Linked DNA regions of Homo sapiens. The protein of the gene in region 7 interacts with the protein of the main gene of each other region in a biochemical or structural test. Each region holds a gene or a part of one and is shown on either strand. Other genes may lie near its edges.

What was found.
Region 1: the proteins of ABCC4 (region 7) and PDZD9 interact in a test that uses a peptide from one of them, tested with the Homo sapiens proteins (one large-scale study listed by IntAct).
Region 2: the proteins of ABCC4 (region 7) and MAST4 interact in a test that uses a peptide from one of them, tested with the Homo sapiens proteins (one large-scale study listed by IntAct).
Region 3: the proteins of ABCC4 (region 7) and STXBP4 interact in a test that uses a peptide from one of them, tested with the Homo sapiens proteins (one large-scale study listed by IntAct).
Region 4: the proteins of ABCC4 (region 7) and PDLIM4 interact in a test that uses a peptide from one of them, tested with the Homo sapiens proteins (one large-scale study listed by IntAct).
Region 5: the proteins of ABCC4 (region 7) and INTU interact in a test that uses a peptide from one of them, tested with the Homo sapiens proteins (one large-scale study listed by IntAct).
Region 6: the proteins of ABCC4 (region 7) and SDCBP2 interact in a test that uses a peptide from one of them, tested with the Homo sapiens proteins (one large-scale study listed by IntAct).

Annotation. Positions count from the first base shown.
Region 1 is NC_000016.10:21,984,117-21,987,616, reverse strand, and holds part of PDZD9 (PDZ domain-containing protein 9), read left to right. Parts: intron 1-2,956; coding exon 2,957-3,350; 3' UTR 3,351-3,500.
Region 2 is NC_000005.10:67,162,893-67,166,392, reverse strand, and holds part of MAST4 (microtubule-associated serine/threonine-protein kinase 4), read right to left. Parts: intron 3,247-3,500; coding exon 1-3,246.
Region 3 is NC_000017.11:54,996,265-54,999,764, reverse strand, and holds part of STXBP4 (syntaxin-binding protein 4), read right to left. Parts: intron 421-3,500; coding exon 314-420; intron 140-313; coding exon of another isoform or gene 134-139; coding exon 1-133. UniProt on the Homo sapiens protein: Plays a role in the translocation of transport vesicles from the cytoplasm to the plasma membrane. Inhibits the translocation of SLC2A4 from intracellular vesicles to the plasma membrane by STX4A binding and preventing the interaction between STX4A and VAMP2.
Region 4 is NC_000005.10:132,260,696-132,264,195, forward strand, and holds part of PDLIM4 (PDZ and LIM domain protein 4), read left to right. Parts: intron 1-1,913; coding exon 1,914-2,065; intron 2,066-3,500.
Region 5 is NC_000004.12:127,639,457-127,642,956, forward strand, and holds part of INTU (protein inturned), read left to right. Parts: intron 1-3,500. UniProt on the Homo sapiens protein: Plays a key role in ciliogenesis and embryonic development.
Region 6 is NC_000020.11:1,319,140-1,322,639, forward strand, and holds part of SDCBP2 (syntenin-2), read right to left. Parts: intron 2,062-3,500; exon of another isoform or gene 1,297-2,061; 5' UTR 1,278-1,296; coding exon 1,224-1,277; intron 521-1,223; coding exon 451-520; intron 1-450.
Region 7 is NC_000013.11:95,291,452-95,294,951, reverse strand, and holds part of ABCC4 (ATP-binding cassette sub-family C member 4), read left to right. Parts: intron 1-3,500. UniProt on the Homo sapiens protein: ATP-dependent transporter of the ATP-binding cassette (ABC) family that actively extrudes physiological compounds and xenobiotics from cells.

The DNA.
Region 1 (3,500 bases), on a different chromosome or scaffold from region 7:
CCACTCTCTTCTTGAAATAGCACTTCCCAGGCTTCTGTGACACCACACTCCCCTGATTTTCCTGTTACCTCTGGCCATTTCCTCTTGGTGTCCTTTCTCCTAGCCAGTTTCATTGATGCCTGTGGTTTCTATGACTATCCACATGCTAATTACTTTCAAACTGTATTATCACCAAAACTGTATTTTTTTTTTCTTGGAGACGAGGTTTTGCTCTTGTCACCCAGGCTGGAGTGTAGTGGCGTGACCTTGGCTCACTGCAACCTCTGCCTCTCGGGTTCAAGTGATTCTCCTGCCTCAGCCTCCAGGGTAGCTGGGATTACAGGCGCATGCCAACACACCCAGCTAATTTTTGTATTTTTAATAGAGACGAAGTTTCACCACGTTGGCCAGGCTGGTTTCGAACTCCTGACCTCAGGTGATCTGCCTGCCTCGGCCTCTCAAAGTGTTGGATTACAGGCATGAGCCACCAAGCCTGGCCAGAATGATCTTTTTGTAATGCAAATCTGATCCTGGCATGTTCCTGCAAAAAATCTCTTAAGACTTTTTGTTCTTTGGATAAATGTCAAAATCCTCACATTGGCCAATGATGCTCTATGGGGTTCAGCTGGCCTCTGCAAACCATTCCAACTTCAACTCATACTGCTTTCCCCATCCTTCTCTAGCCCCCTTTAGCTTCCAGCTCTCTGCCTTTTGTTTTGCCTCAGGGTCTTTGCACTTGCTCTTCTCTGTGTGCAACATGTTTGTAACTTTGCTCTTCAGTAGTCACCCTTGAAGGCTCCAGTGTAACTTCTCCAAGGGGTCTTCCTAGAAACAGGTCCACCTGACATATGCTCTCACAGCTCGCTCCTTCACATTTATCCCAATTTTAATGAAATAATCTGTGTAATCAGTTGTTCACTGTGTTTCCCTGGGAGAATGTGAACTCCATCAAGGCAGGGACTGAGTCTGTCTTGTTTTGCTAAAATTGCCCTAGGACTTTCATGTGGTCAGTGGTTCACTTGTTTTTAATTTTTAATTTTAAAAGTCTTATTTTTGAGACAGGGTCTCACTCTGTCACTCAGGCTGGAGTGTAGTAGCACGATCACAACTCACAATCAAATCCTACTCAGCGACTCCTACACTGGAGGGCACGACTCTAAAAGCCTGGGCTCATGTGATTACATAACAACTATGTTCTAAGCATTTTCATTACATGGAGGAGTTTTGAGATCCAGAATATTAAATTCTAAGGATGGTAGACTGACCATTCAAAAGCAAAGAAAAGATAGAACAGTACAACTTAAGTAAGAGGCGAAAACCCACAAACAATACCAAGCACCTGCTGATTCCCTTTCTTAATTAGGCAAAGTACCCATATCTGAGGCATTTTAGTAACTTATGTATAACGCGGCAGGGAAAGAAGAAGGAAAAAGATGCTTTCACAAAGCTAGTATAAACTTTTCCAGGAGAAAATGGCACTGGGTATACACACTGGAGAAATTCTCCATGTAACGCTCTGGGTAGGCCAAGTGGTATAGAAAGTTTGTTTCTAGCCAATCCTGACCTCTGCAGGGTTGTGGCTTTATTACCTAATGACAATTTACCTGTCCTTTATGGTTACCTAACCATCAGAGTTGCCAAGGATTCCCCCTGCAGTCTGAAAAAAAAAAGTTACTAATACTTGGATTTAAAAAAAAAATTCATGTGCTGTTCAGGAAGACCTAGGTGTGTCTGAAGGCAAATCAGACAAAGAAAATCAGTATTTAAGACTAGTGGCTCTCAGTAAAAATTACTCATTATCAACTGTTTATTACTGGAAGAGATAAACTTTTGGAAAAGCCATTCAAATTATTGGAAGCAAATACAACAGGCAGACTGCCAAGGTTATTAGTGATAACACCAGAAGTCTTAACAGGTTGGCAGGGAAGAAACCTATTTCCTTTTAGCAGGGCAGAATGTACCAGAGATTTGTAATCACAAAGATCTAGTTTTGGTTCTGCTGGGCAATAGCACCAGGATGAGGGAAAGCAGGTGACAGAGCATTCATTCTGGAAAGTTAAAGCAAGCACAGGTACTGTAGGCATTAGGAAAGTTCAGAGACCTGGAGGTGCTAGCAGGCAAGCACCACCTAGTTTCAACAATCAAGAAAGTCAATAATTGGAGAAAGTTAAAAACAACAACAACAACAACAACAAAAACCTGGCTGGGCACAGTGGCTCATGCCTGTAATCCTAGCACTTTGGAGGCCAAAGTAAAGATTGCTTGAGGCCAGGAGTTTGAGACAGGCATGGGCAACATAGGGAGATCCTGTTTTAAAAATAAATAAATAAATAAAAATAAATAAAAATTAGCCAGGTGCGGTGGCATACAGCATACACACCTGTAGTCTCAACTACTTTGGAAGCAGAGGCCAGAGGGTCACTTGAGCCCAGGAATTCAAGGTTGCAGTGAGCTATGATTGTACCACTGCACTCCAGCAAGGGTGACAGAGCAAGACCCTCTCTAAAAAAAAGACTCTAAGACTTACTAATGACTAGGATGTTGAAGATCCTTAAGGCCCACTATTTCCTGACTTCCTGACTCCTCTGGAAATCAGTAATGTTGTGTTAATGCCACGTGAGCCACAAGAATAGAGTTCTCAGGAGATGGCCAGGTTGAATCCGTCACTTTAGCTGCAGTGAAATTAACCTACCCTTTAACACCTCCTAATATTCTGGTCAGTAGTCTAGTATAAGTCTGTGCAAAACTTTTTAAGGTATGGTGAAGTAATTTAAGGCAGAATTTGATTTCCATTTAGAAATGGAAAAAGATTTCAAGACGATTTAAAAAAGAGAAACATTTCAATGACACAGAAAGGTAATGCTAAAGCTAAATTGTATCTTTTATGAGTCAAAGCAAGTTATAAGGCATCTTGTTAGGGGACCATAAATGTTTAGACATGAAGAATCTATTTTATTCACTATTCTTTTCATTTCAGCACACCAAAGAAAATTGAGCTGGCAAAAGATGAATCTTTCACAAGCAGTGATGATAATGAAAATGTAGATTTAGATAAAAGACTTCAATATTATAGATATCCGTGGTCAACTGTGCATCACCCTGCAAGGAGACCAATATCCATCTCCAGAGACTGGCATGGATATAAGAAGAAGAACCATACTATTAGTGTAGGAAAAGACATTAATTGTGACGTGATGATTCACAGAGACGACAAGAAAGAAGTGAGGGCCCCTTCTCCATACTGGATAATGGTGAAGCAAGACAATGAAAGCTCTTCCTCCTCTACCTCCTCTACCTCAGATGCATTTTGGCTGGAAGATTGTGCCCAAGTTGAAGAGGGTAAAGCCCAACTGGTATCAAAGGTTGGTTAGCAAATCTGTGGTCATATGAGCATTTATCTTGCAGACACCCAAGTTTTGTGCCTCACCAGGCACAAGTTTGCTGTACTTATCAAGGACTGTCTGTAGACTCACCAATTCTCTTCTCTTATGACTGCGTTATAAAGCCTTTAGAGATGTTCT
Region 2 (3,500 bases), on a different chromosome or scaffold from region 7:
GCTCCGCGCCTTTCAACCGGTTCTCGCTATGCACAAAGGAAAGGCCGGCCTCGAGCTTGTCGCCCTCTGCTGGAGCATAAAGTGCTTCAGTGCATTTCTTCCCTTCCGCCCTTCTGTCGGTGTTGGCGGCCGGCTGACTCGGGCTTTTGTCTGTCTGTCTGTTGTCTGTCTGTTTGCACAGGGTGGGGCAATCTTTCACAGTGGATGGTTTGGGGTGCTTTGGAGACAGGGTTTGCTTTTCACCAACAGCGGACAGTTTCTGGTCCGCTGGCTCACTAGGCCCTGGGTGTCCCGGCCTTGGCAAATGCACAGGCTTCTCCAGCACCTCCAGGGGCCGCCCACCACTGGTGGGTTGTGGCTTGGCGTCTAGAGGAGCCCTGTCAGTGTGCAGTGGGACAGAGGGCCCACCTTCTCCCTGGCCAATCCCATCGCTGGCTTTGTTCTGGGAGCCTGGGGTAGCAGGAAACACATCCGGCCCACTCTTACTGTGGCCCTTCCCCTCTCTGCTAGAGCCACCGAGGGACTGAGTGGCAGGCTCTTTGCCCTTTGTGGCCCCGACACTTGGTTTCTGAGAGGAGAGGGACCGGTCGGGGTGCTTAGTCTTTGGAGGGCCCGGGTCAGGGCCAGGCCGGGGCTTGTGGCTGCTGCTTTCACTGTGCGCAGCAACAGGCTTGGGAGGGTCCTGGGGGCTCGAGCTGGGCTCTGCAGTGCTGGGCTTGGCCCCCGGCTCTCTGCCAGAAGCGTGGCTTGGGGAACTGCAATGCTGCCTGGCAGCCGGGCTGGACAGGTCTTTGGCCGTCAGAGGGGGCGGAGGGATGCTGCTGGGATGCCTTTGTAGAGGCTGCTCCTTCCTTTCAGGTTCCTTGGCACCATCTTTCTGCAAAGATGGGAAACTGGAGAGCTTTTCACTCTTCTCACTCTCAATTCCAGGTGGCTGCAGAGACCGCCTGGCAAGAAGCGCTTCGGGCTTGGGTTCCACGCCACGCCTCACCTTGCCCAGCTCCTTCTCACAGGGAATTCCAGCTGAGTGCAGAGAGGAGTTGTCTCTGGGCGGGGGCCTCGCCTCACCTGGGCCATCTTTGTGGTTCGTTTTCCCACCCGGCGCCCATGCTTTCTCCATGGCCTGGGTCTGTGTATAGAAATCTGGGTGGGTCCTTCCCACAGAGAGGAGATTTTTGGAGTTGTCACTGGTTTTCGCAGTTTCTGGAAAGCACAGTTCCATGGAGGGCTCTCTGCATGTGTCAGCCCTCGCAGCAGAGCGCTCGCTTCTGGCTGTGGGAGGGCCTCTTTCAGACGATTCCCTCAGGCCTGGCTTCTCCCTTGAGGGGGAAGCTTCAGGTGGGAGCGGGCAGCGTGGCCTGGCCAGGTCAGGGCTGTGGAGGTTCTGCCCCAGGCAGGTCAGAAGCTTGGGGTCAGTGGTGTGGTCTTGGTGTTTAGGGGAGCTGCCCTCTCTCTGTTGGGGATTGCTTTCCATGACTGTTCCAGGGCTCCTGGCAGTAGGATGGGGACCTTTCCTGTCCCTCTTGAACTCTGGGTCAGGCAGGGAAACTGCTGGTGAATTCTGGAGACCTCGGCTGGGGGGCAGGAACCAAGGCTCCAGCAGGTAGGATTTATTCATCTTTAAGCTGGAAGGAGAAAGCTCTCTTGCACTGGTGGTATCGTTCTTTTTCCCACTGCTGCTGGGGAGAACTGGTGGCACAGAGGCCCTCACGTCACCACTTGGGCTGGGGCTCTGTGCAGACTCTGGGGAAGGCAGTTCTGTCTTGGAGGCCTGAGGTCCGGACAGGAGAGCAATGTCCAGAGTGCCCTCGATCGGCTTCAGGCATGAGACAGACCTACCTTCCAGCTTATACTCGGAGGGGCTCTTCCTAACAGGGGACTCAGGAGCAACCAAGCCAGGCTTCTCCGTTCCACTGTCCACCCGGCCTGTTAAGGCCTTGAGGGGAACAAAAGAGACGGCACTCATCTGAGCTGCATGGGTGCTGCTGACAAAAGCTCGGCTCTCAGAAGCCGGCGGGGGCTCCTGCTGCCCACCCGTGGGTCGGACTGGGTTCCCTGGCAGGCATTCGTGGGAGCCAGCTGTCATCTTGGGCTTCAGCACAGGGCAGAGGTTGTCCTCTTTGTCCTCAAGTGACATTTTCTTTCGGAGGTAATCGATGTTGGCCAGCTTGCTGTCTAACTTTTCACATCGGAGAAGCTCCTTGGCCTGGGAGGACTTCTCCGTGCCTTCCCCCTTCCCAGAGATGCCCCTGTCGAGGGAGTGGCAGAGACCATCCTGGAGGGTGCCAGGAGCGGGGGCCCGTCTGAAGTCCCCGCCACCCTGGCGGTGCTCCGCAGGCACCCGGCCATCCGACATCGCACCCTCGCTGGCGCGCACGCTGGCCTGCTTGTGAAGAGCATCCTTCAGCAGGCTGCCCAGCGGTGGCGCCTCCTGCATAGACGCTTTGTTTTCAAAAGTACTTGACCTTTCCACAGCCTTCGGATAGACTTTCTTCTCTCTCTCTTCCAGCTTAAACAGAGCAAAGTTTTCCAAATCACTCCCGGGTCCATGGGATTTCTGGTGGGATTCCTGTTTCTCTGGGAAGCCGTCTGCTTTCTTCACCACCACCTTGGCCTTCAGCTTGTCGCGGTCCAGGTCGTCCACAGACTCCTGGCGGCCCACCTTCCGGGAGACTGGGCGTTTCAGGCAGCCTTGCTCCACTGGCCGGGCGCGGCTGAGCGGCGGCACGTCGCACACGTTCTCATCCAGGCTCTGCAGCGGCGCCTCCCGCTGGGACTGCTCCCGCTGCACCTCCTCTTGGGTCACCTCCAGGCTGTGCTTGCGGGAGCACAGGTGCTTCTTGTCACTGCCGTAAGAGGGCGACAGCTTCTCCTCGGACTGCACGCGCTTGAGCAGCGGGGACCTGGGGGGCTCCGCACTCTTGGGCCTCACGATGTGTCTGACGATGGTGGGCGGGGAGTGCATCTTGCTGGGAAAGGCTTGCGCGATCTTGGAATTGCCCAGTGAGTGTCCCAGAAGAGGGGATGGTGACCGCTGCGGGGAGGTGGGTTGCGGGGTTGGAGAGGGCGTCCGGGCCAGCGGGGACAGTGGGATGTTGCCGGCGGACTTTCGCCTTCCGGACCGGTACCGCTGCCCGCCGAGTTTGGGTGCAAGACCGTGGAGAGTGCTGGGCCGGATGTGCCCGGACCCTGCTGGGGAATTGGGGGCACTAGAACTAGGGGAGCTGCTCTGGGAGGAATTAGTACCTGTGGATGGAAAACAGAAGGCTGTGAGCATCCATGGTCATTTTCCCCTTTTTTTCACAGTTGTAGCCCAGACTGTATTAGGTAAGGCCAGGTAAGATCAGCAAATTGTCTCAGCATTTAGCTAGTGGAATAAACACTTTTCAGATAAACCTCTCCAGGCCAAGGTTTAGCCCCATACTTCTTGACTTATTTGTTTGGTCAGAATAGCCACATCTTATGACCTCTCTATAAATCTGTCTTTATAATTTACACCT
Region 3 (3,500 bases), on a different chromosome or scaffold from region 7:
AAAAAGACTTAATGTTGAGGCTTGAGGTCCATATTCTCCTGAAGCTTCTATAAGTGATGTACATGACAGATTTTCTGGCTGAATGTTGTCGGATTTTTGTCTTATGAATGCTATCTCCCAAGCAGATTCTAACCTAGTACTAAAAAGAAATCACTTTATGGATATGCTATGAATATAGTACAACTGAAATCCAAGATAATGTTTCAGATGTTATTAAAAAATACTTATTATAAAGTACTTAATACATCTTAAATTACTGCTTTCAAGGAGACATTCTAAATGACTCATTCTATCTCATGGATAGTATAGTTACCTCAACTTGGCTCCGGTAATTATGCTTTTTGCTTCTTCAAATGATACACCAATCATAGATTCCTTGTTGACTGAGACAAGTTGATCTCCTGGCTTCAAACGACCATCCTAACAAAAACAGTAACATTTATAAAGGAACTAATGAGGTATTTAAAAAAAAATTAATTGATGTAATTAAAGCAATGAAAAGTTTTCGTGAAGAATGCCTTCAAAAAGAGTAAAAAGTAAAATCTTAGACAACCTCAGTAGCAAAATCTCTTGATTAAAGTCTGGTTTGGTAACATATATTATGAGTAAAATGGAATGGTTCATGTATTGCATGAATAAATTTACGTGGTAAAGAATTCTTAATATGGTAGGTAGGACATAGGCCAGTATACCAGGAAAAGGGACCTGTTTTAAAAACTGAGCACTATGGGGCTGATAAAGCTCTGACTCTGTGATAAAGTGGGCCAAATAACTGTGGGATATTTCACAATACAAAACTCATTTATTTTATTTTCTCTGCATTCCTACATATGTCCTCCCACCAAACTGTTCAATGTGTGTGTGGATTTATCCCACATTGAGATTTTTAAAACTTTAGTCAAGGGTTTTTAAAAAAAAAAAATTAAATTTTCAAAATTTTTTGTAGAGATGAGGTCTCATTACATTGCCCAGGCTGGTCTCAAACTCCTGGGCTCAAGCAATCTTCCCACCTTGGCCTCCCAAAGTGCTCGGATTACAGGTGTGAGCCACTGCGCCTGGCCAAGGATTTTAATTATATTGATCCTACCCATATTTCAGCATAATCTTTTTTACTATACCTGCTATCCCCCTATGATTAAGGCCTAGTTGGCTGTGCATATATTGTTAGCCATATCCTGCTAATAATGACAATTCTAACTGGCTGCCTGGTGTTGCCTTTGCTAAGGCCTGGCTTGCTCACAGCTAGCCTAACTGAGTAAGACAGAGCATATCAGGAACAAGAGTTAATGTGGTTGTTAGATATGTTAGATAAGTTTCCCAGTTTTTGTCTTTTCTTTTCATTCAAACTAGAAAATAAAAATAAGCTTTCTTCTTTTACAGTTCCTAAGGTATTTCCCTATTTATCATTAATTAGTACAGTGGTAGAAACCATTATTTTTATAACTACAGAAAAAGCTTATATGGTTAAAAAGGGAGATTTTCACCTTGATGGTACTTAAGTAACTTCCACAAATTCAAGAAAACATCTTTCTTTAAAGTCTTATCTACTAAAATATATCCCTTGGATACTGATCTTTGATCTAAGCTGTATTATTTGTAATAATGGTGATTCACAGTTATTTTACTCCTAAATAACAACAGGTATTATTATTTTTTAAAAAGACATGAAGTACTATCTCTTTCACTGACTAAAGAATATATAGGAAAACAACAAAATTGACATAAAACATTCATGAAAGGATTTTATAGAAACATATCTCAAATAGTGTGTAAAAGATTATATAATCTAGATGCATAATGACCCTATCCTACTGAAATGTAAACATTATTTAAAATACTTAAGCCAAAAGAGTCAACTTAATTTTTAAAAATATATAAGCCAGGCACGGTGGCTCACATCTGTACACCCAACACTTTGAGAGGCTGAGGCAGAAAGATTGCTTGAGCCCAGGAGTTCAAGACCAGCCTGGGCAACATAGTTAGACCCCATCTTTCAAAAAAAAAAAAAAAAAATAGCTGGCACATGTCTGTAGTCTCAGTTACTCAGGAGGCTAAAGTGGGAGGATCACTTGAGCCCAGGAGGTCAAGGTCATGACTACGCCACTGCTCTCCAGCCTGGGCAATGAAGCAAAAATCTGTCTCAAAAAAAATATATATATATATAAAATATATAAAATATATATATATTTATATTATATAATATATATATTTATATTATATATATTTATGTTATATATATAATTTAAAAAAAATTTTTGATTTTATGTAAATATGTGATTAAACATAGTTAGCAAAGTCAGACAACATAACATGCAGTGTTAGTACAGAAAAAAAGTTCACATGAAGGCAATTTAGCCCATCTTGTATTAAAGTACACTGATGTATAGAAGCTGCATTTTCTGGCAGGAAGGGAGTCAGAAAAGAGAAGAAGAAGAATGCCTTCTGACTATGACTTCTGGTGTTTACATATTTTTTCTTTCTAAAAAGTATTCATAGCAGTTAGTTTTTTTCTTTGCCTCCTAGAATAAGATCTTAGCTGATCATGTGAATTTCTGAACCTGTTTAAAAGTCAGAACCTGCAAATGAAAACAAAGCTATTTTTGTAAGTCTGGCATTCGAGTGCATTCTGCCCCAGATGGATTAATGTATATGTGAAGATACTAACTTCAGAGATATGTTGAGACCTCTTCCACACAGTCTAGATTCCAATTCAGCAGTTACAGAGCAACTACCTGACATGGGAGGCAATGTGCCAAGCACTTTCATATGCTGAACTTCAGATCTGAATTCTTTCACATTGACATTCATGTAGATGTTGAAATAATAATATATTCCTGACCACATAAACACTTCTGTTAAAAACGACCAGTACTATTCATTTCTATATTGACTTTGGTATATAGTTTTCTAAATAATACATTTCAATATTATGAGAAACCATCTATACAGCCTAATTCTGACTTAACTAACTCATTATACCTAATACTAAGGAATAGTCCTTCTGTAAGCCTTAAGATTCCTTTCCTGTACTTTTACAAGATGTAGACTGATGGTGACCTTCTTTTAACTCCAGTTATTACTGTGAACTGAGGCAAGTTGTTCAGCTTTTATGAACCTCTATTTTCTTAGCTGTAGAATGGGGATAAATATATGTAACACAAGGTTGCTATAAGAATTAAGTAACATATGTAAATTATAGCACATTATACGTGTTAAATAAGATGAAGTGAATGAGACTTCCATATCTGTTGTGGACAATTTTCATACTGATAGCAAATTTAATTATATTACTCATTAGATTGAGAACCTTTGATGGCTGCCAACTGGTAGGAAAAGTTGAAACTCCTCAACATCCCAAACCCAGCACAACAAATTTACTGCAACTTACTTTTTCTAGCTTCATCATCCACCTTCCACACCAGCATATTCTTCATTCTACTCTCAGAGAATGTGCCTCAAACCAGCCATGGTCTTTTGAACCTCAATGTTTTCACACATAT
Region 4 (3,500 bases), on a different chromosome or scaffold from region 7:
GTCTTTTATCAATTAACTATCCTTCTGTACTTCTCTGGACCTCCGTTTCCTGATCTAGGAAATGGGCTTGCCTTCAGGATTAATGAGATAATGCATGTAAAGGTGACTGGGAGAGTCACAATTTCTTGGCCTCACGCCCTCTCTGACCAGAACTCCCCTAGCTCAATAGAGCTGGCAGCATCCCAGCCACCACTGCTTTCAAGAAACTTCCTCCGCCCACAGAAGCCTGAATGTACCCCTTGTGCTGGCTGAGTCATCCTGCCGCAGTTAGCCGCCCCCTGAAGAAAGACTCCTCTCCAGTGTGGGGACTGGGGCATGGCATCCCTCCCCCAAGCTTCTTTCTCTTCATCTGTAAAATAGGGATGAGAACAGCCTCTGCCTCACCAGGTGGTTGAGGGGTTGCTGTGAGCTAGTTATGGGTAAAGCATAGAGCCCAGGCCCTGGCACAAGGCAGGTATCCATGAAGGGGAGGAGGCAGAGGATGGCCTTGAGGGGAGGGTGGGATGGTGCCAAGTGGGTGTCTCCCCCAGGATGACAGGCTTGCACAGGTGCCCAGGCCCTACAAGTGAACATTAATGATGGGCTAGTTGGCTGAGGGTGTCATGCTTCAGAAGAACGTTTCCTTGAGGCAGCCTACTTCAGGGCAGGTCAGCTTGGGCAGTGCCAACACCAGGCCTCCAGCCAAGGAGCTGCCAGCACCTCAGCTTTGTCCACTCACTACTGAGACCTGGCTGAACTGAGCCTAGCTGGGCTTCCAGGAGTTCCCACCAGTAGGAGCTCCCACCCAAAAGAATGGGGTCACTGGCAGCTTTTGAACCAGCTGGGCACTGGCTGGAGAGGCTGGGTAAGAAATATATTTCTAAAGGCTATGTTGGGGTCAAGGCAGGGTGAGGGGTGCTCCATGGCCTGGATTCCCCTGAGTTGCTTACTTAGATATCTCTGTGAGTCTAACTCCACCCCCCATTCTAGCCTTCTTCAGTTGACCAGCATTGTAAGAGCTTCCAGGTGTGAACACTGCTTGACCCCGAGGGGTCAATAGTGGCACTGAGGTAGCCTGAGTTCCTGTCCTGCAGGGGAAGTAGAGGTAGAATTCTGACCCCCAAACGCAGGCTGTCAGCTGGAACTGGATGGCCCTGGACTTGCTCAGGGAGGTGATGTTCAGACCTTCCCATTTTAATTATAATGAAGTATTAACATGAACAGTGTAGGGGGAAAAGGTGGTCATGGGAGCACACTGGGTAGTGAGATCCCAGAGAGGCTCCCAGAGGAAGTGGCCTCTATGCTGAGATCTGAAGGATGAGGATGTGGGAGTCAAAGGAATGTTCCAGGTGGAGGGAGCAGCTTTTGCAGAAGTGTAGAGGTGAGTGATATATGGTGCCTGTGAGCACCCCATAGACATTCACATGGTCTGGACAGAGTGTGGGTGTGGAGGTGGGGATGAGAGTTGAAATCAAGCAAGTAGGAAGGCAAGGTCACTAAGGGTTTGAATATTAGGTCAAGGTGTGTAGTCTGTCTGGTTGGGGCCTTGTCTGTGTAGGGTATCTGTGATATGTCCATGCTGTGTATGTATCTGTGAGCACCTATGTCTCCATGTGTCTCTGTGTCCCCTGCATGTCCTTGGGCACATACGCAGGCTGCAAGAACAACATCCATTTGTCCCAGCCCTGAGGAAGCCCTTCTCGTATATCCTCATGCCCTGCCAGGCCTCCAGGTGCTGGAGTTGGAGGTGTTTCCAGCAAGGCTGCAGCCAGGCTACATGGGGACCTCAACCAGCCACTCGGCTTGCCCATCCACAGGCCATGCTGGTAGCAGGCCACACTGGCTAGGTTCTGAGGTTGGAGGAGGCCTAGGGCACAGCTTGCAGCAAGACCATATCATGACTGTGCCCAGCCATCTGGCTTGTCTGCTCGCAGGTCCATGCTGGCAGCAAGGCTGCATTGGCTGCCCTGTGCCCAGGAGACCTGATCCAGGCCATCAATGGTGAGAGCACAGAGCTCATGACACACCTGGAGGCACAGAACCGCATCAAGGGCTGCCACGATCACCTCACACTGTCTGTGAGCAGGTATGCACAGGTGGGCTGGGCTGGGAGGATGGAAGGACGAGGTGGGCAGTTATGGGCAGCTGGCATTTTGGGTGAGCCCAGCTTCACACAGCCTCTCTGCCTCAGCTCCTGGGTGCCCCATCCAGGAACAGTCCCAAGGAGTAGCACTTTCATGGGGGCCTGGCAGATACTGTTTAGAGTTATAGCTTAAGAAGGGAAGAAATCCCCTTTTAACTTAGACTAGAAGTGTGTTGGGGCACTTATGGCAAGTGTTGCAGGCAACTGAAATAAGACCTTGAATAGCCTCTGGGGCATTTGTTTCATTCCTTTCCCCTCCCCTGAGTGACCAGCTTGATGACCATTTCAAAGTAGTTTCTTGTGCAACACCTCATTTAACCCTCATTTACCAACTTAAAAAAGGGCTACTATAGTCCCCACTTCACAGATGAGACAAGTGAGGCTCAGAAAGGTTAGATGGTGCTTAAAGTCACACAGAGAGGGAGTGGGGTAGCAAAATTTGATTTTGGGGCTCTCTCCTAAGACTACAGACCCTTAACTTGGCTGCTGACTACTCCTACCAGCCCCTCAGCTGCCCTGCCACAGCTGTCGCCACCGTGGCCCACACCTCTGCCCTGGTTAAATCTGGATTTGGGAAAAGTTCCCACTAAGGACTGTGTAATGCTTTGCAGCCAATCAAGAAGGGGAGGACAGGGGGTTACCAAGCCCATCTGTGCTCCATAAATGATCCTGGGATAGAAGGTCCACTGGGGGTGGGGGTGGGGGGACCCAGCCTTGCTCAGGTCCTGGGTCTTTACTCAGCTCTGAGAAGCAGTTGGCCTAAGCCTGGCTGAGTGGGATCTCCCCACTCCCCTGCCCACCTTGATCCACAGAAGTCGGGCATAACTTATCAGCTCTGCCGTGTTCACTGCTGAGGGGATTTCCATGACCCCCTGTGGAAGTACGTGGGCAAAGCCTCCCCAAACCACAACACAGCTAACCATGCCTCTGAGCTGGCAGGGTGGGAGGTAAGCCACTGGCTTGGAGCCTTTAAACATGGTGGAGAGGCCTGTGAGGTCAGCCCTGTTTGTGCTTGGCCCTGGCACACGGTGAGGATGCTCCATCTTTGGAGTTCAGCAAAGCTGGTCCTCATCCAGCCTCTGGAGCCTTAGGTGCCCAGATGACCTCTATGAGCCCGGGGTTTCCTTTCCCATTAACGGATCACATTCATCACCCTCCTCCAGACTGAGATACAGGCTGGATGGGGGAAATGTCAGCATTGCTCTGCCCATGAGTGACCTCTGAAGCTTCCCCACTTGGCTGGGATCCTGGCCCCTGACTCACCTCCAGCCTTGACTCTGTGTGGCTGAACAAGGGCAGCCCTAGTGGTAGTGGAGTAGTGGGGAGGAGTGCCTCAGAGGGGGCCTGAGTCAGGAGCTTCTCAGAGTGTATGATGTCA
Region 5 (3,500 bases), on a different chromosome or scaffold from region 7:
ATTTCTTTAATTTAGGGAAGTTGTAGTGAAAGGTTAGGTTTTTGTGGGTTTTTTGTTGTTGTTGTTGTTAACACATCCCCTTTCTTCTAATAGGGCTAGAAGAACTAGTTTGGGACAACAGTCATTAGAATTCTATTAAAATTTCTTAATACACTAATCATTTATCCTCTTTTTAAAAAATTGACACATAATAATTACACATATTTGTGGAGTATAATGTGATGTTTCAATAGACATATACATTGTATAGTGATTAAATCAGGGCATTTGGCCTATTTATCACCTCATATGTTTATCATTTCTTTGTGATGAGAACATTCAAAAATCCTCTGTTCTAGTAATTTTGAAATATACACTATAATATTGTTAACTATAGTCTCCCTACTGTGTAATAGAACACCAGAATTTATTTCTCCTATCTAACTGTAACTTTGTACCCGTCGACCAATCTCTTGATGCTTACTTAACTCGGAACTATTCCTCTGGAGTAGAAATAAAGAACCTTCCAGGAATATTGACCTGTAGGGTCCTTAAAGGCAGTGCCTCGCTTTGCTTCTTGTGTCACTATCACCTACCCTGAAACCTGGCAAACTGAGATCATTAGAGACACCTTCATTTAATGCCAGTTAGAAAAATACAGAAACACAAGAGTTATATCTAGTAAAAGCAAGAGGAAGGGAACTGATATTTATTTGGAACTTAACCATGTCAGGAACAACATTATTGTATTTTCTATTGACAAGAGTCCTGTGAGGTAGCTATAATCTATTTTCAAGAAGAGGAAAACTAAAGCAATCAGTCAATCTTAGAAAGGTTAAAATCATAATAGAACAAAATTTGAACTCAGCTCTTCATGATTTCTCAGTTCATTTGCTTTTCAGTATAAGTTGCCCTTCTGTGTGGGGGTCTCTTATTTACACTTCCCTGTCTCTACCTCTTTATCTTCCTTTTAGTTTCTTCCTCTTTTTAAAAAGTGTCTTTCTCTTCTTAAAATGATGTATATTTAGAAATCTAGACATTAAGAGAGTGGATCCCACACATCGCTAGTGAAAATATAAATTGGTATAGTCTTTTGGGTAAAGATACATATATATATATATATATATATATATATATATATATATATATATATATACATATACATAAACACACATGTGTATATTGATGGTTCCTATAACTTTGTGGTGGAAAAACAAGAACTGAACACAAAGCTTATCAGTAGGTGAATGACCAAATGTCCTACATCCTTGATATTGAATATTATGCAGCCACTAGTGATTTCTAAGCTGTATTGTTAAGTGAGAAATTATATATGTACTTTATATAGGTACATATATAATGATTCCACTTTTTCAAAACAGTGACAGAATAACCCTATATGTGTTTTTATATGATTATAAAGCATGGATTTTTTAACAGTGTTCATGTGAGAGAGAGGTAGTAAGAGAAGTATTAAGATTGTGTTCCCATGTATTACAATGAGTCTGCACATGGGTACTCACAAAAGGATGCATGAAAGTATAGTCACCAGCTAGAAATCTAGTCAACATGAATCCCTCTCTCTCTCTCTCTCCCCACCTAATCAGTCTCAAAGTTCTGGTGATTTTCAAGAGTTTCTCACATATTTTTCCTACTTTCCATGTCTTCTACTATTGCTTTATTTGTCATTTTTGCTTCAGCTACTGAAACAGCCCCCTGACTAGCCCTCCTGCCTTGAGTCTTGTCCACCTCAAATCCACCAACGATTTACTTGCCAAAGTAGACCTATCCAGGGATATCTAACACGTAAACTCTCTACTTAAAACTCTTTGTTGATGCCTTCTTACCTGCACTACAAAAGCCAAACCCCTTAGGGTGATCTAAAAAGCCTGGCAAAACTAGGGCTTGACCACTTCTGTCATTCCCCACCTTCCGCATTTACTCTGACAACTGCAGACTGCCAGTGGTTGTCCGTCTAGGCCATGGGGACTATCCTCAGGTCTTTGCTTATGCTGTTACTCCTGTTTGAAATCCTCTTCACATCTTTCCCTTCAGCTCCCCACCTCTCTCCCTCCTTCATTTATCCTTTCAAACTGGTTTCTGGGGTCTCCCTGATCTCCCCTCAACCTCCAGCTAGGCTAAGCTGGGTGACTCTCCCGTATGGCTAAGCTGGGTGACTTTCCTGTATGGCTAAGCTGGGTGACTCTCCTGTATGCCTCTATCTTGTACTTACCCTGTGTACTGTCATGAATTCTTTCTCACTTTCTCTTCTTTACTAAGCAAGGGCGGGAACTGACATTCTCGTCATTATAATTCTGGTACTTACCATAGTTCCTGGCACTGTTTAGTTGCTCCACAATTGAATGCCAAGATGCTATCCCCTTGGCCACCACGTGCATGGATCTTTGAATCATAACCAAAAGTGATTTCACATTCAAACTTTAGAGATTGAAATGAATCATCTTCATATTTAGTAAGTGGAAAAGATGTTTCTTTTATATATCTCTAATACAAATAACTTACCAGGTTAAAAGGGTGAGATAATAAGGCTGATACACTTTATTCATTGTTTAAATTGATATATATATATATTTTTTAAATTGATACATATGTTTTTAAGTAATTAATGTGCAATCATGGTATTTACACTGTAGCAATTAAAATTAAGGTAGCTTTGTTACTAAATGATTATGGTGGGGATATAGTTATTTAGACTCTCAAGAGTAGAACTGCATAGTTATTTAAATATTGATTCTGTGGGTACAGATAGGTATTGTTGAAATAAGTGATATTTGGTTGATAATCTGCAATAAGTGAGGCTTAGTGCCTATGATGATGCCACACACTGGGAACCAACAAGTCCCAAAGAAATGTTAGTTTTGATATTTTCAGCTTGTTAGGCATTTTTAAAAATGACTCATATGTAGCTGAAAATTCTGTATTAATGACCAGCCACAGACCAGGGCAGTGGTTAGTTTGAGTTGAGTAATAGAATAGTATATTTTGGGGGCTAATTTTCAAAGTGTTTAGAAAGAGACATTTGACTTTTAAGTTAAGAGAACTGGAGTTGCTAATAAACACTGCAGAAAACAGAAATGTCTTCTATCTGATTTAATGATTACAACACAAATTATACTCTTTCAGGCCGGGATATTACAGCTCATGTTTCTGAAAAGACTCTCTACATGTTAATTTTTCCACTATTACTAGTTTCACTTTAAAGAATAGCAGTTTGAAAGGTAAACTGTTCATAACATTGAACAGGGTAGAGTTTAGGTTTGTTACCATGAGTATTTTTGCTCCTTAATGCTATTTCAATCATTTTAATAGCAGTAATTTTGTTTTTTTTTTCAGTGGCATACTTCCCAGTTAAAAATATTTTTTATAATCACGATGAATTATGTAATATGTGCTTTTTTTTTTCTACTACAATTTTTCATAAAAAGGAGTTTTATGGAAATTATAGACAGTAAAGTGATCATTACTATATTAACTGTGATTATAAATGGGTTGTTTTCAGG
Region 6 (3,500 bases), on a different chromosome or scaffold from region 7:
TCTGACAAGTGTGGTATTTCATTCCCGGGGTCACATGAGATTGGATCACCAGAATGGTGCTGAAATGCTGATTTGAGGTGACTCAAATCGTTTATATAGACAGAGGCCCCACAAATGATATCACATCCTCAAGGCAGCCTTGCTGGGGGCATCAGAGAAGCCATAGCTTCCCTAACTTGAGCTGGGTTTGGAAGGATAAACAGGGGTTCACCAGGCAGTCAAGGAGGGAGGGGAACAGCATGGGCACAGGCTCTGGGAGGTGAGGTGACTCAGCCCAGGTCACCCAGGCAGTAAGAGGTGGGTGGCAACTGGAAGCCTGGTCCTCTCTTCCCACCATGTTGAGTCCTTAACCCTGGAGCCTCCCATACCTTTGGCATTGCCAAGCTTCCCTGATGATCTCTTCCCTGAAAGGACTTGGCACCCAGGAGCCCCTCATCCCAGCCCACTCACCTGGTGGTGGGGAAATGGCTGTTGCCTGGACTGGCAGGGCTGGCATCTTGGGTGAGGCTCTGACCTGGGCCTGGGGAGGAGCAGGGAGCACTGGTCAGCTGTGGCCAGGACCCCAGGAACCCCAGAGCCTGGAGCTCCATGAGGCCAGGGTCTGGGCATTAGGGGTGTGAGTGGGCCCGGGGTGTGGGGGGAGTGTGCACCAACCCTCAGGGCTCAAGATCACGTAAACGTGGCCTCCGCAGATGTGTCTTTTCCTGGGAGGAAGTTCTGGGGGACTGTGACCCACCCTATGTCACAACCCATTTACTGCCTGCAACAGGCAGAACATCAAGGCCCATCTCCCAATCAAGTTCTCAGCTGAAAAGTCTCCATTTCTCAAAACCCACTGGAACCACAGAGTGCTGGGATGGAGGAGGAAGGGGGCTTCTGGGGGCTAAGCAGACCAATGCCTATGCCCACTAGTCTTGTTTCCTCTGAAAGCCTGCCTTAGAGCATGGAGCCCGCCCATCCTGGAGGGAGGGAGAGCTGGGCCTGGGCAGGACAGAGCAGGCATGAGAGAGGCATGCGTGCGCTGCTTGGTCTTTTCTATTCTTGCTGTAACGCCATTGGCATTGCCCCCTGGATGTCTTCTCTGCCCAGCAGGCCCTGCAGTGGACACCTACATGCCCTGAGGCCTACGGGAATCTCCAAGTGGCCCCAGTACCCAGCACCTTCCAGGGTAATCCCCAAGGTCCCCTTCAGGGAATCCAGGCCAATGGGGCCTGGCGACTTACCTGAATGGCTTGGTCCACTTTTAGGTCCTCTAGAGATGGGTACAGGGATGACATGGCTGATTCTCAGAACACCCTGCAGAGTGCAGAGGGTGGGGAAGGATAAGGATGCAGCTGATGCCCCCTTGAAAGGAGGCACAGACATCCGCAACAGCAAGCGGGTTGGAACTTAATATTCAAACAGAAAGGCAGCAGGGCACTTAGAATGCCTCCCCGAACTCCACCCCTAATCCCCTGTCGATATTTGAACTCTACTGTATTCCACTCATCTCCAGCCTCACTGTCAACTTTTAATCTTGGCCACAATGAAGTAAGACCAGTAGGAAATTTATAAAGACTCTCACACAAACTGTAGCAGAACTTAGACACTCAACAGGGCACTGCTCCAGAGGGAGGAGGGAATGGGGGGTGGAGAGGCACCATGAGCACTTATTTACTAAACACCTTCTCATTGTCCCAGGGAGAATCAGCAGGACCTCTGAGCAAGGTGCCCCGAGAAAGTGAAAGGAATGATGACCTCTTAAGAAATGTTTTATTCCCTTCCTGACGAAATGTGGGGAAGGAGCAGTCTGCCTTTCTGGGTTCCTTCCCTTTACTCACTAACCACTGGCTCTGTCACACCTCCAGGCTTCGCTGAGGCAGTCCACTCCAACTGGAGCCCCTGCCCAACCTCCTTGTCACCCTCGGTTCCTGTGGGACACGCCTCCCCTGGCTCCCAGGCAATACGGTCACTGCCCCTCCCACCCAGGACCCTGCCCTCCGGGACAGCTCCGGGACAGCACCGGGCCAGCCTCTTGCTTGAACTCGCCACTTGTCCTGACTGCAGTTCTGAGGGGTAAAGGTGTGTCCTATTCACCCCACTGAACTCACATGTGATGGGTACACATGATAAAGGAATGCCCGCTGGTGGCACAGGAAACTGAGGGTCCTGTGCCTGAGCGATGTGACTCCAGGCTTCCCAGGATCAGATCCGCTGGGCACCTCCCTGAGTGACCACAGGCACGCCGAGGACATACTCATCCATCACTGCTCCTTCTCCTCCCTCTGCACCTGCTGCCTTGACCCCTGTGTCATCCTTGGCCCCGCCCCCACTATCCCTTCTTGTCTGTCATCAAATCCCATCTCTCCCACATCCCGTGTTGTGCAGGTCCCCATCATCTCCCTGGCCCTCTCCAGGTGCCATAACACCCTCCAAACACACTGCTGCCTCCCCTCCTGCCGTCCTGCTGCTCTCCAGACAGCAGCCACCAGGCCCTTTGTGTACACACTTGGGATGTCATGCCCTGGCTGAAAGCCCGCCAGTGGCTTCCCTGCCTTGGGAATGTACTCTCCTTAAAGAGGCTCACAGGGCCTTCACGATTCCACCAGAGATTGGAACTGGTGGGCCCAGGGCCAGATGGAAATAGATTTTATTTGACCTTGTGGAGTACTGTAAACGTTCAGATTAGCAGCTTAAACACAAAGCTCAAGGTACTGGATTTAATAATCGAATTTCCCACTGCTCCCAAAAAACAGGAAGCTTTGGCAACCCTAGGCTATAGCAGAGTAGCTACAATTGAGTAGCAGCAGACTCCAGGGTGACCCAGTCCACCATCCTCTATTGGCTGTTACACCCAGACCATTGTACTCACTGGTGCCAAGTCCCAATAGATATTTGTTTGCAACCCTAGTCTACCTCTCCAGCTTCATTTCTTGCCTTACGTCCTTTCAGCTGCTACTTTCAACTCCAGCCACAATGAGCTACTTCCACGTCCTTGCATGTGATTCCCTCCTGTCTCTTTTGCATGTGTTATTCCTTCTATCTGGAATACCCCTCCTCTCCCTGCTCCTTGCTTGGCCAACTCCTAATAATTTTCAAGTCTCAGATCAGGGAGCTCCTCTTACAGGAAGCCTGCTTTGATTTGTGCTCCCCCTAGCCCCTGCTCCATGTCCTACTCCTGTTGAGTATTCACCACTCTTGTGGTTGCCTCTTTACTTGTCTGTCTACCTCCTTAGGAGTTCCAAGATGGCAGGAACAGGGGCTTCTCATTTGCTGTGAAGCCTCTAACCCCTAGCATGGAGGCTAGCTCAATAATATTGCCAGAAGCAACACATTCTACCTGGGCTTCCACTTTTCTCCTTGTAAAGTAAAGCTCTAGTATCCTAAGAACACCCACCTTCCTGGATGAAACAAGGACCAGAAGTCCCAAATGTGCCTCTCACAGTCCTGTTTTATTATTATTATTATTTTGAGACAGAGTCTCACTCTGTTGCCAAAGCTGGAGTACAGTGGCGCGATCT
Region 7 (3,500 bases):
ATGGAGTTTCACTCTTGTTGCCCAAGCTGGAGTGCAGTGGCGTGATCTCGGCTCATTGCAACCTCTGCCTCCGGAGTTCAAGCGATTCTCCTGTCTCAGCCTCCCAAATAGCTGGGACTACAGATGTGCGCCACCATGCTCAGCTAATTTTTTGTACTTTTAGGAGAGATGGGGTTTCAACATGTTGTCCAGGCTGGTCTTGAACTCCTGACCTCGGGTGATCCACCCACCTGGGCCTCCCAAAGTGCTGGGATTACAGGCGTGAGCCGCCATGCCCAGCCTGGACTATGTTTTCTACCCCAACCTTGTGGTCAGAGGTGACCATGAAACTGAGACCTGGCCAATAGGAAGTGGTTGCAAAAGGTGTCTCGCTTCCACGACTGGAACACAAAAACCAGCCCCATGCAACGCCTCTCCAGCTGAATAAAGAGGCCTCCTGGAGAGGAGGAGGACTGAGAGGAGGCCGAGCCGCAAGATGGTGAAAGTCCAGCTAGGAGTAAATGTATGGTGTTGTTCACCACCCTAGATGGCCCAAAAGGGGACTATAGCATGACAATAGGCATGGTCTTGGTTTCTTGTTTTCTTTTTTGAGACGGAGTCTATCTCTGTCTTGCAGGCTAGAGTGCAGTGGCGTGATCTCGGCTCACTGCAACCTCTGCCTCCCGGGTTCAAGCGATTCTCTTGCCTTAGCCTCCTCCCAAGTATCTGGGATTACAGGAGCTCAAAACCACGCCCGGATAATTTTTTATTTATTTATTTATTTTGTATTTTTAGTAGAGAAGGGGTTTTGCTGTGTTGGCCAGGCTGGTCTCCAACTCCTGACTTCATGTGATCCACTGCCTCGGCTGGTGATTTTGAATTAAGCCATTGAGAATCAGGGCTTGTTTAATAGCTAGCATTATTTGCACGATACAGTGGCTGCCTCCCTCATTGTGTGAGCTCTTTGAGAACAGGAATGGTACTTTATTGTAATGGATTTGCACCTGGCAAGAAAGAAGGCACCCTGCCTTCTTTCATGGTGGCACATGCCTGTAATCCCAGCTACTTGGGAGACCGAGCAGGAGAATCGCTTTAACCCAGGAGGTGGAGGCTGCAGTGAGCCAAGATTGCACCACTGCACTCCAGCCTGGGCTACAGAATGAGACTCTGTCTCAAAAAAAAAAAAAAGCAAAAGAAAACGTAGTCCAGGCTGGGTGCGGTGGCTTATGCCTGTAATCCCAGCACTTTGGGAGGCCGAGGCAGGTGGATCACAAGGTCAGGAGTTCAAGACCAGCCTGGCCAACGTAATGAAACCCCGTCTCTACTAAAAATACAAAAATTAGCTGGGCGTGGTGGCATGCACCTGTAGTCCCAGCTACTCGAGAGGCTGAGGCAGGAGAATTGCTTGAACCCGGGAGGCAGAAGTTGCAGTGAGCCAAGATCACGCCACTGCACTCCAGCCTGGGCAACAGAGCGAGACTCCATCTCAAAAAAACATAGTCCGTGTGTCCAGCAGTCGCTGCTGCAGGAGTTCATCCTGAACCCGTGTTGGGTGTGCTGGAGTAGAAGTATGGAAAAGCTGTGTGAGGGTGGGGATTTTGTTTTTGTTTTTGTTTTTTGAGATGGAGTCTCTGTCGCACAGGCTGGAGTGCAGTGGCATGATCTCGGCTCACTACAACCTCCGCCTCCCGGGCTCAAGCGATTCTCCTGCCGCAGCCTCCCAAGTAGCTGGGATTACAGATGTGCACCACCAGGCCTGGCTAATTTTTTTGTTGTTGTTAGAGACAGGGTTTTGCCATGTTGGCCAAGATGGAGATCTCTGGGGAGGGGTTTACCTTCCTGTTGGAGCTTGGATGGAGAAGGTGGGAAATCGTTCCTGGCAGGGGATGAGATGTCCAGGTCACAGAACTGCAGTTGGAGAAAGTGTTGCCTGAGACGTGTGGCGAATGACCACCCCTCAGTCGCTATGTCGTCCCTGCCAGCCGGTAGCGTTTGTTACACCCAAGGTTGCCCTCCCCTCTTTCATCCCAGCAGATGTTCAGACTTTGCTTCTCCCACTTCCAGCCCCTTACTCATGAGTACTTACAGCCCTTTTGTGGCCTGCGACGTAGCTCCTTGTTCCATTTCTGGGTTCCATGACCACTTCCGTGCTGGTCTGTTTCAGGCCTAGTCCCTGTCTGCTCTTTTCTCTGCGCTAGCTCCTATCTTCCCCTTTTCCTTAGTGTCATAGAATTAGTGGGTTGAAAGGAAGAGATCTTCTAGCCCACACTCAGTACAGGAATCCCTTCCAGATACTGGGCAGTGGGGAAATGCATTATGTGACTCTCATGACTTTAGATTCGAATGCCAGAATTATGTTGTATTGAGCCACAGTTTTCTTTCCATGCAATTTCTACTTGTGTTTACTTACTTCTAAGAAAAGCATTACAGAATTTAATGAAGCAAAGAATGATCTGTGAATCAAGCAGCTCCTAGAACCAAAATAGGTTCAGAGCCGCTCTCCTTTGTTTTTTTGTCAACACGCAGAGCAAGTTGGCTACCTCCCTTCATATGCTCGCCTCATAGTATTCAAAGACAGCTATCATGGCCACATTAAATCTTTGTTTCTTTGTTTGAGACAGGGTGTCACTCTGTCACCCAGGCTGGATTGCAGTGGTGCGATCTCAGTTCACTGCAACTTTCACCTCCTGGGCTCAAGCCATCCTTCCACCTCAGCCCCCTGAGTAGCTGGGACCACAGGTGTGTGCCAGCATGCCCAGCTAATTTTTTATATTTTTTGTAGAGATGAAGTTTTGCCATGTTGCCCTGGCTGGTATTGAACTCCTGGGCTCAAGTGATCCTCCCGCCCTAGCCTCCAAAAGTGCTGGGATTACAGGCATGCGCCATGGTGCCTGGACAGGAGTTTATTTTTGACCCTGTTAAGTTTGAGATGCCTGCTACACATTCAAGTGGAGATGTTGAATAGGCATTCAATTGGTCATGAGTTTGGGGCTCATGGAGAAGTTTATCTTATTATTATTATTTCTTTAAATGGAGTTTCACTGTGTTGCCCAGGCTGGCGTGCAGTGGTATGATCTTGGCTCACTGCAACCTCCACCTTCTGGTTCAAGCAATTCTCGTGCCTCAGCCTCCCGAGTAGCTGGGATTACAGGCACGCGCCACCACACCCAGCTAATACTTGTATTTTAGTAGAGATGGAGTTTCATCATGTTGGCCAATGTGGTCAGGAAGTTTATGTCAATTTGGGCATCATCAGTGATACATGCAGTTGAGCTATATTGGACACATGGCCAATTGACCTCACAGTCCGCAGGGCTTGTCCCCATGTAACTGCTCTTCTATCCCTATGCAAATTCATTTTGTAGATGCTAACGTTTAGCAGCTCATTGTTGCTGTTGAAAGTTCTTGGAACACTTTCGTAGTCTGAATGCTAGAAAGGATGGGTCCTAGGAATGTCCTCTAGGTTGTGGCAGATCCACTAATCAACACTGTGGTTGCTAGATTAACTTGGCCACAAGTGT